Regions from separate parts of the Homo sapiens genome. Here region 1 is linked to region 2. A link means that fine-mapping ties the variant in region 2 to the expression of a gene that starts in the linked region. Tissue or cell type: esophagus muscle. Region 2 holds a variant in brackets; the other region holds the start of a gene. All regions are shown on one strand. Distances are from middle to middle.

What was found. PIP is the estimated chance that this variant, and not a neighbour inherited with it, causes the effect.
Region 1: ZNF470 starts here. The variant in region 2 is fine-mapped to the expression of ZNF470 in esophagus muscle (GTEx, PIP above 0.99).

The regions. Positions count from the first base shown.
Region 1 is chr19:56,563,570-56,570,096 of GRCh38, reverse strand. ZNF470 (zinc finger protein 470) reads right to left here and starts at 2,629. Exons shown (of 6, transcript NM_001001668.4): 1 at 2,059-2,629; 2 at 1,214-1,339. ZNF470-DT (ZNF470 divergent transcript) reads left to right here and starts at 2,076. Exons shown (of 2, transcript XM_047439806.1): 1 at 2,076-3,024. The coding sequence starts at 2,076. The coding sequence ends at 3,014. RefSeq lists enhancers at 2,190-2,299, 2,680-2,889, 2,900-2,949.
Region 2 is chr19:56,541,268-56,547,794 of GRCh38, reverse strand. It overlaps ZFP28 (ZFP28 zinc finger protein), which reads right to left. Exons shown (of 8, transcript NM_020828.2): 3 at 161-287. It overlaps ZNF470-DT (ZNF470 divergent transcript), which reads left to right. Exons shown (of 2, transcript XM_047439806.1): 2 at 524-2,220. Among named protein-coding and RNA genes, the nearest start is that of ZFP28, 5.6 kb to the right of the region's middle. RefSeq lists an enhancer at 1-511. The variant TG/G (reference allele first, on the strand shown) is at 2,857.

The sequences.
Region 1 (6,527 bases), 22 kb before region 2:
TTTCAGGATGAGCATAATATCTCTTGACCCCCTCTCCCCATCAGCCACCAATTCATTAACAACAGATTTATTAATACTAGCCTGTGTGTGTGTACATTTTTTTTTTCTAAGACAGGGACTCACTCTGTTGCCCAGGTTGGAGTACAGTGACGTGATCATAGCTCACTGTATCTTCAAACTCTGGGCTCAAGGGATCCTCCTGCTTAGGCCTCCTAAGTAGCTAAGATTACAGGCATGTGCCACCATGCCCAGCTAGTTTTTTTACTTTTGATAGAGATGGGGGTCTCACTATATTGCCCAATTGCTCACTATATTGCTTGAGGCCAGGAGGTGTCAACCTCCTGGAGTTAGGTATCTGGTCAACCTCCTGGCCTCAAGCAATCCTCCTGCCTTGGCTTCCCACAGTGCTGGGATTACAAGCATGAGCCACCATGTCTGTGCTGCATATATTAATACTGTCTTTAAATCTCCAAAATCTTCAAACAGAATCGGGTATATTGTCACCATTTTACACAAGAAAGCTCTGGGAAGTCAAGTCTTTTCCACAAGTCACACAAATTTGTAAATAACCTAGTCACCAACCTAGGTCTGGCTGACTCTATCACAGAAGTTATTTGCTCATATACCAGAAAATAACAGAAAATAAGTCCTCTGTGCAGTTGGCCAGGATTTGTGAACATTCTATAAGACAAATTCCATGGAGAATTCCATCTTTTCCAGAGAGAGGCATTCCTTTCGTTACAACAGAGTCCATGTGACTTGCAGACAACCAAATGAAAAAATCCTCATGAGGCCTAGGATCTCATTTTGTTTTGTGACAAACTACAGTGTTGAAGCAGTCCCTTGACTCCACTGAGCCATGTTTCCTTAATTAGGAAGGAAGAGGATAAAGTATCTGAATTAATTCTAGTTTCTTTCATCTAAATTCCACTGCCTTCTCAAAGGATTATCATAATGATGATAAAAATGAACACATTACATGGCAGGGACTATACCAAGTGCTTTACATGTATGAGGTCATTTAATCCTTATGACAGTACTGTGAGGTATATAATATTACCATCTCCATTTTACCTAAGAACTTAGAGTCATAAACTTTTTAAGAAAAAAACCCCAAACCTGCTCAGTGGAGGTTCTGGCATATGAACTATTTAGTTATTTAACCCTTTCAGAGTCAGTTTCTTTAATTGTCAAAAGTGGCTAAGAAACCTACCTGAGGCAGTAGTTGAGGAAACTACATGACAGCCAGTGACTCTGGAGTCAGCCTGTTCTGGATCTGAATCCCGGTTCTTCCACTTGCTAGTGATTACTTATCCTCTCTATGCTTCTGTGTCTTCATCTGTAAAAAAGAGGTAAGTAGTTCCTACTTCATAATGTTGTGAAGTTTGGTGCTGATACTCCCAAAAGGTCTTAGAACTGTGTCTGGCACATAATAAACACTCATTAAACATTAGCTATTACTATAGCATGCAGGAAACTAAACAAGCACAGAACAATATGGCTAAAAATAGCCCTTCCTCCCCCTTTCTCTTTATTGGAGTGGGAGGCCAGAGGGGAGGGAGAGAAGCCCAAGGAATGGGGATATCTTCCGTTATTGACTAGAACGTGATTAAGCCATAGAAAGGCTGGAATGCCTCGGCATTTCTGGGTGAAGCTGTGAATCTCGCCTTCTTCCCAAATCCTACAGTGATAGATGGGACAAGGCTCTGACGGGTAAAAATCTAAATGCTGAGCTATTCCTTCAACAGCAGCAGAGTACCCAGAAGTAATGCTATAATGGGTAATATTACGGGTAGTGTTCTCTCCCATGGGCCCTTAGTGATATACCAAGGACCTGAGTCAGGTTATCTGGTTAGGTGTCTCTGGCCAAGTCAAGGTCCCTCCCTAACTAAACCCAGCTCCACTCTGACCCAAGGTGACCCTCCAAATCTTTCGACTTCCAGGTCCACTAGCCTTAGAAACGGGGGACATCCTCCTCCAGCACCTGAACCCCGAAAGACAGCACCCAAAACCTCAATGTCCACTCCGGCAGCCACATCCGTCATCTGTCACTCTTACCTGTGTACTCAGTCCCCATGGTCTTCGCTCCTCGCCGTCCTGTGGACATGGAGCCCTGTCCTGGGCTCTGCCCCTTCCAGATAGGGCTGACAGGAAATGCTTCAGCCGAGGCTGCCCCGCCCGGGCAACTTCCCCGGGCTCTAGGACTTTGCCCACACTGGGCTCTACGCAGTCGATACAGGGGAGAACGGGGTAAGCCTCCTCCGGCCGGGTTTCCTGCTCTTGGCCACTTAAAGTGCTTCACTCATTCCAACACACACCGCCTTCCGCACGCCGCCGGGCCATGCACGCAGGCGCAGATTCGCGGCCACGCACCGGACAGTCACACACCGGGCCGCCATCCCCGCGCGCGCTCGCCCCTCCTCAGCACAGCACCGCACGCTCACCACGTATGGGCACTCACAGCCACCAGGCCACACGCGCACGCTCACGCCCGCCGCCCACACAGGAACCAGGACACCGCCCCCGCCGCGCCCCAGTCCAGCCTCGGCCGCTGCCCCGCCCAGACCTCCCTTCTCCTCAGCAACCGGCGGGACGTGCACTCGCCCGGCTTTGGGTCCTTTCCGGAAGTGGGCGTGTCCTCCGCTGCAATAGCCCCTGGGAAGTGTAGTCCGGAACGGAGGCGGCGTTCAGAAATAGGGCGCTGGCTTTGCCAGGAGCGGCTCCTCTCCAAGCCTGGCGGTCACTGCCCTGTGTCCCCTTTTGGGCCTCTCCTGGTCCTCCTGGTTGGATTAGGAGGCCTCTCAGCCCGGAGTCTGGGTCGCCGAAGTACAGGCCCCTTCACTGAAGCGACCCACGGCGCAGGGGTTTCTGGAAGCCATCGCCAGGCTCCGAGTGTTCAGATGCAGCTGCCAGGCTCAGGACGCAGAGAACTGGCTTCCAGCTCGCAGGAGCGCCTGTCCGTGGTGGGTAGGGTCGCAGGCGTGGGGTGTGCAGGAGCAGTGGGACAGCACTGAAACGCAGTCGGTAAGGCGTAGCGGCTACCCTCTGGAGAGGAAAACCATGACAGGGCGGGGCTTGGGGCGCGGGCGGGGCCTACGCGATAGAAAAGTGAGGAGATTGGGATTTGTCTGCTTTGCACACTTGTGACTTTCTGATGGTGCGCGTGTGGAACCTGTTTTATTTCATGCCTACTAGTTACTGCTCTCTGATATACGGTACGCCCCTCACCTCCCCCCACCCCATTTTATCTCTCCCTGCTGGAAGGAGGGTTCCAAGAAGGCACACAGCTTCCGTCCTGTTCAGGGTTATATTCTCAGTGACTAAAACAGCACATAGTAGGTGCTTAGTTTTTTATTTTTATTTTATTTTTTAGGAAATCACGAAATCTAGCATTGCCAGTCTCACCATGACACAACATGTTATAGGCTGAATATGTCCTCCCAAAATTACTATGGTGAAACCCTAACCCCTAGTGTGATGACGTTAGGAGGTGGGACTTTGGGGAGGTAACTGGTTTTAGATTAGGTCATAAGGGTGATACCCTTATGATGGGGTCAGTGCACTTATTAAAAAAGAGGAAGGAGGGGTCTCCATGTTTACACAACCACCAAGCAAAGGCCATGTGAGGACACAGCAGGATGTAACCCATTTGCAAGCCAACGGGGCCCTCACCAAGAACTGAATGTGCCAGCACTTTAACTTCCCAGCCTCCAGAATTGTGAAAAATAAAGTCTCTTAGTCAAGTCACTTAGTCTATGATATTTTGTTATAGCAGCCCCAGCTGACCAAGATACAGCATCATAGATACTGGCTCACCAGAAACTAACTCACCCTCCCAGTCACACTCAATCACCCAAGGCCACACAGTGACATCTAGACTGGACTCTCCTGGATCCAATTTATGTCAGACATCATAAACAACATAATAAAGCCAAGTCTAGCTGTGAAGATACTTTAACTATGAAACAGCAAATATCATCTTAGAGCTTGTAACGTTTGTGGTTATTTGAGTTGGATGAAAATGATAATATTCTCATTTTAGCTCTGGCATATAAAGAGCTCGGAAGCCTTCATTCCCATCTTCACAACAACAAAATCATTCAACAAACTGAAAATCAACTTTTCTTAGATCCATCAGAGAACTGAAGATAGAAAGGTAACTGACACCCCAAAATCCCGAGAAAGAAAAATACATAAAATTACAGCCAAGATTAGCTTACTTGAAGCAGAAGCCACTGGAGTTATAAACTGGTAAAAACTTTTATTTTTTATAATTTTGATGAATTGCTGGAGGCTTAGTGTGGGCTAACTTGTGAGTTAAAAACTCCTAGGGGCCCAATCTTAGATGGGCCCCCACACTTTCGTGAATTTTACCTCCAGAAACCCTATCAAATTCTCTCAGTGAAGAATGGGGAAAAATCTCAGGTTTTTGGGCAAGGGGAGGAGAAAAGTAAGCACCACATTTTCCATAATAAACACCTGCACTCCAAGAAAAACTACTTACTAGAGTCTTGTTGGACCTTGGGGAGAGGCAATTGGCCAGCTCCAGTCCCTCTATAGCCTGTCTGTCTCAGTAAGGCAGGATTTTTGAAAGGCTAAGAAGTGCTTCTGAAGATCACAGTCCAAGGCCTCAAGCCCACTAGAAAAATAGTATTTAATAATAAGATTATAGAATGCTTCCCTCCCCACTGTACCTCACTGCCACACTAATGGGGCTCTGGTCAATAACAGTAGATTACAACAGAGAAAACTGCAAGGCACAGACTCTATTTAAGAAGGAGTTCTTAGGGAAGCCCACAGAAGGAGAAGCATCTTGGAAAAAGTAGACAACATGCAAGAACAGATGGGTAATGTAAGCAGAGAGATGCAAACTGTAAGAAGGAATCAAAAGGAAATCCTAGCAATTGAAAACCATTGTAACAGACATGAAGATTACCTTTAGTGAGCCCCTCAGACTAAGACACTCTGAGAAATGAATGGGTGAGCTTGAAGATATGTTAATAGAAATTTCCCAAACTGAAATACAAAGAGGAAAAAAAAAGAATGAAAAAAGAAAAAGAACAGAATATCCAAGAACCATGGGACAATTACAGAAGGTGAAATATATGCGTAACTGGAATACCAGGAGGGGAAGAGAGAAAGGAGAGAAAATATTTGAATAATGACTGAGAATTTTCTAAAATTAATGACAGGACACCAGGCCAGTGTGGTGGCTCATGCCTGTGATACATACCAGCACTTTGGGGGGCCAAAGTGGGAGGATTGCTTGAGCCCAGGAGATTGAGACCAGCCTGGGCAACATAGTGAGACCCCATCTTTAAAAAAATACAAAAATTAGCCGGGTGTGGTGCTGTGTAATTGTAGTCCCAACTACTCGAGAAGCTGAGGTGGGAGGATTGCTTGAGCAAGCCATTATCCTGCCACTGCACTCCCTCCTGGGCAACAAAGCAAGACCTTGTCTCTAAAAGCAAGAAAACAAACACCAAACCACAGATCTAGGAAGATCAGAGAACACAAAGCATTATCACAAGTCACCTTTTGACATTATCACCAGCACTATTCAGTCCTTTTAATTTCTTTCAATCCTTTTTGTTTCAGATTAAATAATTTCTATCTATATTCAACTTCATTAACTATTCTGCCACCTCAAATTTCCTGTTAAACCTATCCAGTGGATTTTTACTTTCAAACATTGTATTTCTTAGTTTTAGAATTCCCATTTTCAAACTGATTTACTCATTTGCTGAAATTCCCATCTGCTCATCCATTAATAGCATTTTCCTTTATGTCATTCAGAATAATTATAATAGGGGCTTTATCATTCTTGTTTGCTAATACCAGTGTTTAAGGATTTGTATTGCTTTCTTCTCTTGAATGTGGCTTATGTTTTCACATATCTAATAATTCTTACTCTATGAGTAACACACTGTAGAGACTCTGTTGTCTCTACAGACAAAAAGTCCGTCTGAATTTTGTTTTTAGTAGGCAGTTCACTGTGTTGAACTCAATCTCCAACTCTTGTCTCACTGAGACAGGTAATGCTAAAGCCTTTGTTGGGATGCTTGGAGTTTGTCCAATACTTGTATAGAAAAGGGACTGTCCAGAAATTTTGGGTCTTAAGTGCTGGTGAAGGCTAAAAGGATAGTGAGAAATACTCCATTAAAAACTGGAGGAAAGAGGGTCCTTGTTATGTAATGGCAGAAAGTTTAGCAGCCTGTTATTTGCAGCTAATGCAGGAAGAAGAACTGGGTGACGTAGCTAAGATTTTCAAGGAATGTGCTGAATGTCCTGTTGCTGTTGTTTTCTTGCTGCTTACAGAAACATGCAAAAGAAGAGATATAAATTGAGGGAATAACTGTTAACAAAGAGGACATTAGGATTTTGAAAATTCTTAGCCTCTGTAGGTGGCAAACAATGCCAAAAACAAGAAAGGGCTTCCAAGCAAAAATGAAATCCAAGTTACTGCTAGGAAAACTGGTCTAGATAAAAACTAAGGGCATGGCTGTAAAATCCAGAACCTCAGAAAG
Region 2 (6,527 bases):
AAAACAACCTGGTCATACTGTGTGGCTGTCCAGACTGAGATGCAGTCCCCTTGGCTTGACGCAAGAGGGCAGTGCAGGTCTGGGTGATAAAGGCATGAAAGGCTTCTTAGTCCAGGACGTGGGTAGGGTGAGGGGTGGGAAAAGGGGTGGGAGCCCTTACCCAGCGATGCCAGGTTCCTGTAGTTCTCCAACATCACCTTCCTGTACAAGTTCCTCTGAATGGGGTTCAGCCACTCCCACTCCTCTTGGGAGAAATCTACAGCCACATCCCCAAATGTCACCAAGCCCTGAAATGATATAACCATGTTCTTGCTCAACCAGTGCTCATGCCCCCACATGACTGGGGGTTTGTTATAGAAAGAAATGTGTCCCCTGACAAAACTCCTACATTAAACTCCTAATCCCCAGTACTTTTGAATGTGACTGTATTTAGAGACAGGGCCTACAAAGAGGTAATTAGGGTTAAATGAGGTCATATGGGTGGGGCCCTAACCCAATCTGTCTGGTGTCCTTATTAAAACAGGAAGAGATACCACGGTGTGCAGGCACAGGGAAAAGACCACGTGAGGACACAGAGAGAAGACGGCCGTCTGCAAGCCAAGGAGAGAGGCCTCAGGTGAAACCAAACCTGCAGGCACCTTGATCTTGGACTTCCAGCCTCCAGAAGCTTGAGAAAAGAAATTTCTGTTGTTTAAGACACCCATTCTGTGGTATTTGTTCTGGCAGCCCTAACAAACTAATATAGGGATCTAAAGATTCCTTGTCTTCATTTTGAGTAAGAGACTATAAACTCAGAACTGTGGAGATCTAGTTAGGTATTGTACAGCTAGCCTCATTCTGTCTTAAACTCCAGGTAAAAGAGAAAAATATGGAGACAGCCCCTGACTTTGGAGAACTTGCAGTTTTGTGGAGGTGAAAGGAGGCAGCCACAAGAAAAACCCCTGACATCAATTCAAAACTATAAATAACAAAGACTAACTTGTTCTATGCACAACAGGTACTACAGCACTGTCCAACATGGGGACATGTGAGTGGCCTGAAGCAGCACAAGAACTGGGCAATAAACTTGAGATGAACCTCAAAGCATCAATATTATTCATGACTAAACTGGGTTCTAAGAATTTCTATTTTTACTCTCAGTGTTCAGTAGAGGTCATTAAAAAAAAATCTAGCAATTTTTTTTTCTAAAATGAATATGTAATAAGAATGAAAAACAAAAAGCACTATAATGTTTTTAATTAATGAAATGCCTTTACGAACCAAGGTGCCATCTTGGAGAAGCTAGGCATTATGAGGAGCTATCAGGAGCACATTTGCTAACAGCTTGGCATGAGCAGGATTTTCTTGACCAACTGGCAAGATGGGGCTGCTCAGCTCCTGCTGGCAGATTTTTATGGAGCATAGTTTTACAAATTCAGCCTACAACTCTGATACGTTCCAATGTATTTTAAACATCTATTCAGTTGCAACTCTAATCCCAGGAACCTGTGGCTAACAGAAGGCAGATTTAACTGACTAGCAGCTGTGGGATTTTCAAAGTCTAAACTGAAATGAACATGCGAAACAGTTGGACTACCCCAAAAGCTGAATTACAATTCCAGCACTCACCAGCTCTGAAACCTCACTTGGTTACCTAACGCCTCTGTGCCTCAGTTCCCCAGCTATAAAATGGAAAAGGCAACAATACCAACCTTGTAGATTATGTTTTGGATTAAATGAGGCAACACATACACAGCACTTAGAACGTGCAAGGCACAATGGAAGCATGCAGTGAACATGACTTGTAATGATGCTGACTGTCATAACTCTCATCCATAGGGATGCTGCCTCTGCTTGTCACCCTTGACCTATATATTTTCAGGCAGTCCTCACCCAGTCCCCATTTGTGTGTTCTAGATAGAAAAGGCCCCATACTATGAAATGACTACTGTCCTTCTGCATGAAGCCTGGTGAACCTGATAATGTAGCCTTCAAGTTCCCTTACTGAGCCTTGAGCTCCCTTCAAAGTATCCAAGCCAACCCTGTCTTGGGAAACTCACCTAGATAATGCCCTGAACCCCAATAAAGGCTCCAGCCCACAGGTCCCTCCCTCTCTCTTGGTCCCCACCCTTTGGCTGGGCATGTGTGTCCTCAATGTCTCCAAGCCCTTCCAGTAAGCCCTGCAAGGTGTGCTGGCCACTGTTCTCTGGAATCTGTGAGTAATAAACAATCTTTTTGCCATTCTGCTCTAAGTGTCCCTCACCATGCTGCATCTGACTACACAAAACCTAATTTAAATACCTCACTTAACAAACCACAACACCAACCAAGAGCTGAACCTTTTAAAGATTCACATTATTCTACTAGAAACAAAAGTCCCTTTGAGGTTTGATATCTGCTGAATAATATACAATCACTTGTTCTTTAACCTGCTACCAAACTTTAAGGACATTTGTAACTGAATTGTGTAAAAATAGGTCAAAAGGGTTTTGTAAGTGATATCCCAATTTGAGTGAATATCAACTGCAGAGGGAGTTGAATCAGTCAACTGCAGAGCTACACTCTTGATGGTAAACTCATCATGGAGAAGTCTCCTAAGCTGGGGACTGAAAGGCCCCCTGCAGTGTAAACCATGAGGTAATACTTGCAGGAAACAGCCAAGAACTGCTTAATGTCCTTGAGCAAAAGACACACTAATATGGCTACCTGAGGAAGCTAGTCTAAAACAAATGCTGGTCAGCTCTCAGCAATAATTTTGCAAGTTGAAGCATCTTGGCATAAAAGAAGAGGAACTTATTTGCTTGCCAAGAAGAATCAACCCTAGTTTCCCAGGTTGATCATGCTATGCATTAGTGATCTGCTTTTGTACCAGTGGTT[TG/G]TTAAATGCCTTCAATGTAATCACGTAGAGGGACCCAACGTTAGCAATATACATATATCCTCCTAAGACATTTTCTGTTTATTCGGACAGCTCTTTATGTATAGAATCAATGACTTTTGTTTTAAAAATGTCTTTTACTGTAAATAACAGCAATAACAATAGCTGAAAGCACTTACAACACTTCAGACGCAATTCTATATACTTATATATTAGCTTATTTAATCCTCACAACGATCCTAATAGTCAGTACTATTACTATTCCCATTTTACAGATGAGAAAATATTGAGCTGTAATGTGCCCAGGATCACAGACAGTCAGCTGTAGAGCTGGGTTTTGAACCCAGGAGTCTGACTCCACAGTCCATGCTCTTAACCTCCACTTCAGGTGTCAGCAAAGTTTTTCTGTAAAGAGCCAGAAAGTAAATATTTTAGGCTTTGTGGGCCAAATAGCCTTGGCCGCAACTCTTCAATTTTGCCACTGTAGCACAAAAGCAGTCATAGATAATACATAAACAAACAAGTATGTTGTGCTACAATGAAATTTTTTTTATGGACACCAAAATGTGACTTTCATTTAATTTTCATGTATTCTTCTTCTTTTGATTTTTTTCAACCACTGAAAAATGTAGAACTCATTTGTAGCTGGTGGGCCACACAAAAGGAGGTGGTGGTGGGCTGGATTTGGCCTATAGGCCATAATTTGCCCAGTTCGGTCCTATATTAAACACTTTTTTTGAAGTACGCCATCTAAGTGTCTTGCCTGTAAATTTCTAAAACCGTCATGATGACATGAGGATGCTGCCAGCTAACACTAGTAAGTCCTTACTATGTGCCAGGTACCTCAATCCAGGCACTATACACATCTTAACTTAATCCTTACAAGAACTGCTTGAGGCAGGTCCAATTATTTTCCTCATTTTACAGATGAAGAAAATGTGGTCACTTGAGTTGCCTGAAGGTTACGCAATGATTAGATGCTAGGGCTAGCATGTGAACCTAGTCCATGACCTTTGACCACTTTGCCATTCTACTTCTATTAAAAGGTTCCACTTTGATAATAGCAGTAATACTTAGTATCCATTCACCCTGACAGTGAAACAAGTTCCAGTAGAAAACATGTTTTCAGATAAAAATAAAATGAACTTTCCCTAACTGATGTCTGGATCAACCTACTTAATTTAGGTGGAGACAAAACATTGTCAAATGTGCAGGTCCTGTTCTTATTCCTGTTGCTGCAACATAAATATGCAGACTTCAAAATGGGTTTCACATTTTTACACTATACCACAGAGAAAACATTATACAGGCACAGAATCTACTCCTGATATAGGCATCTGATGTAAGTTAACTCATCTTAATATACATATGAACTGGGTATGGTGGCACACGCCTATAGGCCCAGCCACTCAGAAGGCTGAGGCAGGAGAATTCCTTGAGCCCAGGAGTTTGAGGCTGTAGTACACCATAACTGTGCCTGAAAATAGCCAATATACTCCAGTCTGGGCAAAACAGTGAGACTCCCATCTCTTAAAAAAATTATATATACATATATATATAATATACATATATTAATATATATATAAAATATACATATATAATATATTCTATATAATATATAAACACACGCACACACACAAAGATAGAGACATTAAAAGAATACCAACAAAAAATAAAAGCAACTTTATACTTACAGAAAAATCTTTCTGTTGAAATTTCATAGAAAAGAATGAATATGAAGTACTTTATAGAAAAAATACACTAAAAAGATTTGTTTAAATTCAATTCAGTTAATTTTTAAAACATACAAATAAACATTTATTTGGTAATAACTATTATTCCTGATGAAGTGTACATTTTTTTCAAAACATGAATTCTAGCTTTTGAGGCACCACTGCTGTTCTATCCAAAAATAATTTTAGAAGTATTCCGATTTCACATAAGCTTAGGAAACCTTAATCCATGAGGCAAGAAAAACTTCTAGGAATGTATTCATACAAAATAATCAGGGGCTGGGCATGGTGGCTCACACCTACAATTCCAGCTCCTTTGGAAGCCAAGGTGGGAGGATTGCTTGAGGCCCGGAGTTTGAGGCTGCAATTATCTATGACTGTGCCACTGTACTCCAGCCTAGGTGACAGAGTGAGACCCTGTCTCTAAAAGCAAAAAAACAAAATAAAAAAATCAGGGACGAAGCACATTTTCAGGTATAAAAATGACTATTCTAACACTATACTAAATATCAAAACACTGGCCACAAGAGAACTTTAAGACTATATTCAAACATTCATCCACCAAATATTTTCTGTATCAGACATTAGGCAAAACTGCCCCAAATCCTTGCCTATGAAGTAAGGAAATGAGACAAGAGAAACTGAGATAAATTAAGTAAAATACATTTGACCTTCGAACAACATGGATCTGGGCTGCAAGGGTCCACCTATATGCAAATTTTTTCAACCAAATGCAGACTGAAAATACAATTATTGTCTGGGCGCGGGGAATCACACCTCTAATCGCAGCAATTTGGTAGCCCAAGGCGGGCGGTTGCCTGAGGCCAGGAGTTCGAGACCAGCCTGGGAAACATGGCAAAACCCCATCTCTACAAAAAATACAAAAATTAGCTGGGCATGGTGGCACATGCCTGTAATTCCAGCTACTTCGGAGGCTGAGATGGGAGCACTGCTTGAGCCTGGGGAGGTCAAGGCTGCAGTGAGCCGTGATGGCACCACTGCACTCCAGCCTGGGTGACAGAGTGAGACCTTGTCTCAAAAAAGATTATTTGTGGTATGGAAAACCTGTGTCCACTGAGGGCTGACTTCTCATATCTGCAGGCTCCACATGGCTGATGAATAAGTGCAAATTTTGGTATACGTGGGATTTCTGTATATAGTATGTTGAAAAGTACTACGAGGGCCAGGCACAGTGGCTCATGGCTGTAATCCCAGCACTTTGGGAGGCTGAGGTGGGCGGATCACTTGAGGTCAGGAAATCGAGACCAGCCTGGCCAACATGGTGAAACCCTGTCTCTAAAAAAAAAAAAAAAAAAAAAAAAAAAAAAAATTAGCCAGGTGTGGTGGCTACTCGGGAGGCTGAGGAAGGAGAATCATTTCAACTCAGGAGGCGGAGGTTGCAGTGAGCCGAGATCACGCCACTGTACTCCAGCCTGAGTGACAGAGCAAAACTCTGTCTCAAAAGAAAAGTACTAAAAGAAAAAAGCAAAGCAGGGAAGAGGGATGTGAAGAACAGGTAGGAGGCTCTGAAATTCTAGACAGGGTGAGCAGGAAAATGAGAAGGCGATTTTTCAGAAAGAAGAGAGTGATGTAGATGTCAGGGGTAACAAGGAGCCAGGTCATGTAGGGCCTGGTCAGTAACAGGAAGAGTTTTGGCTTTTATTCAGAGAAACCACTGGAGGGTCCTGAGCACAGCGTGACACAAGGTGACATGTTTGAATAGACCCCTCTGGCTGCTCATCGGGAAGGGGCTGTGGGGAGCGTGAGCAGAAGCAGGAGGTCACAGAAGCACAGTCAAGAAGCCCACAGTAAAAGGAGGACTTGGACCTGCTGCTGGTGATAGATGTGATGAAAACTGCCAGATTCTGCACATAATTTGCAAATAGAACTGACAGGATTTGCATCAGGACCAAATATGGAAGGAAAAGGCAAGAAATGAG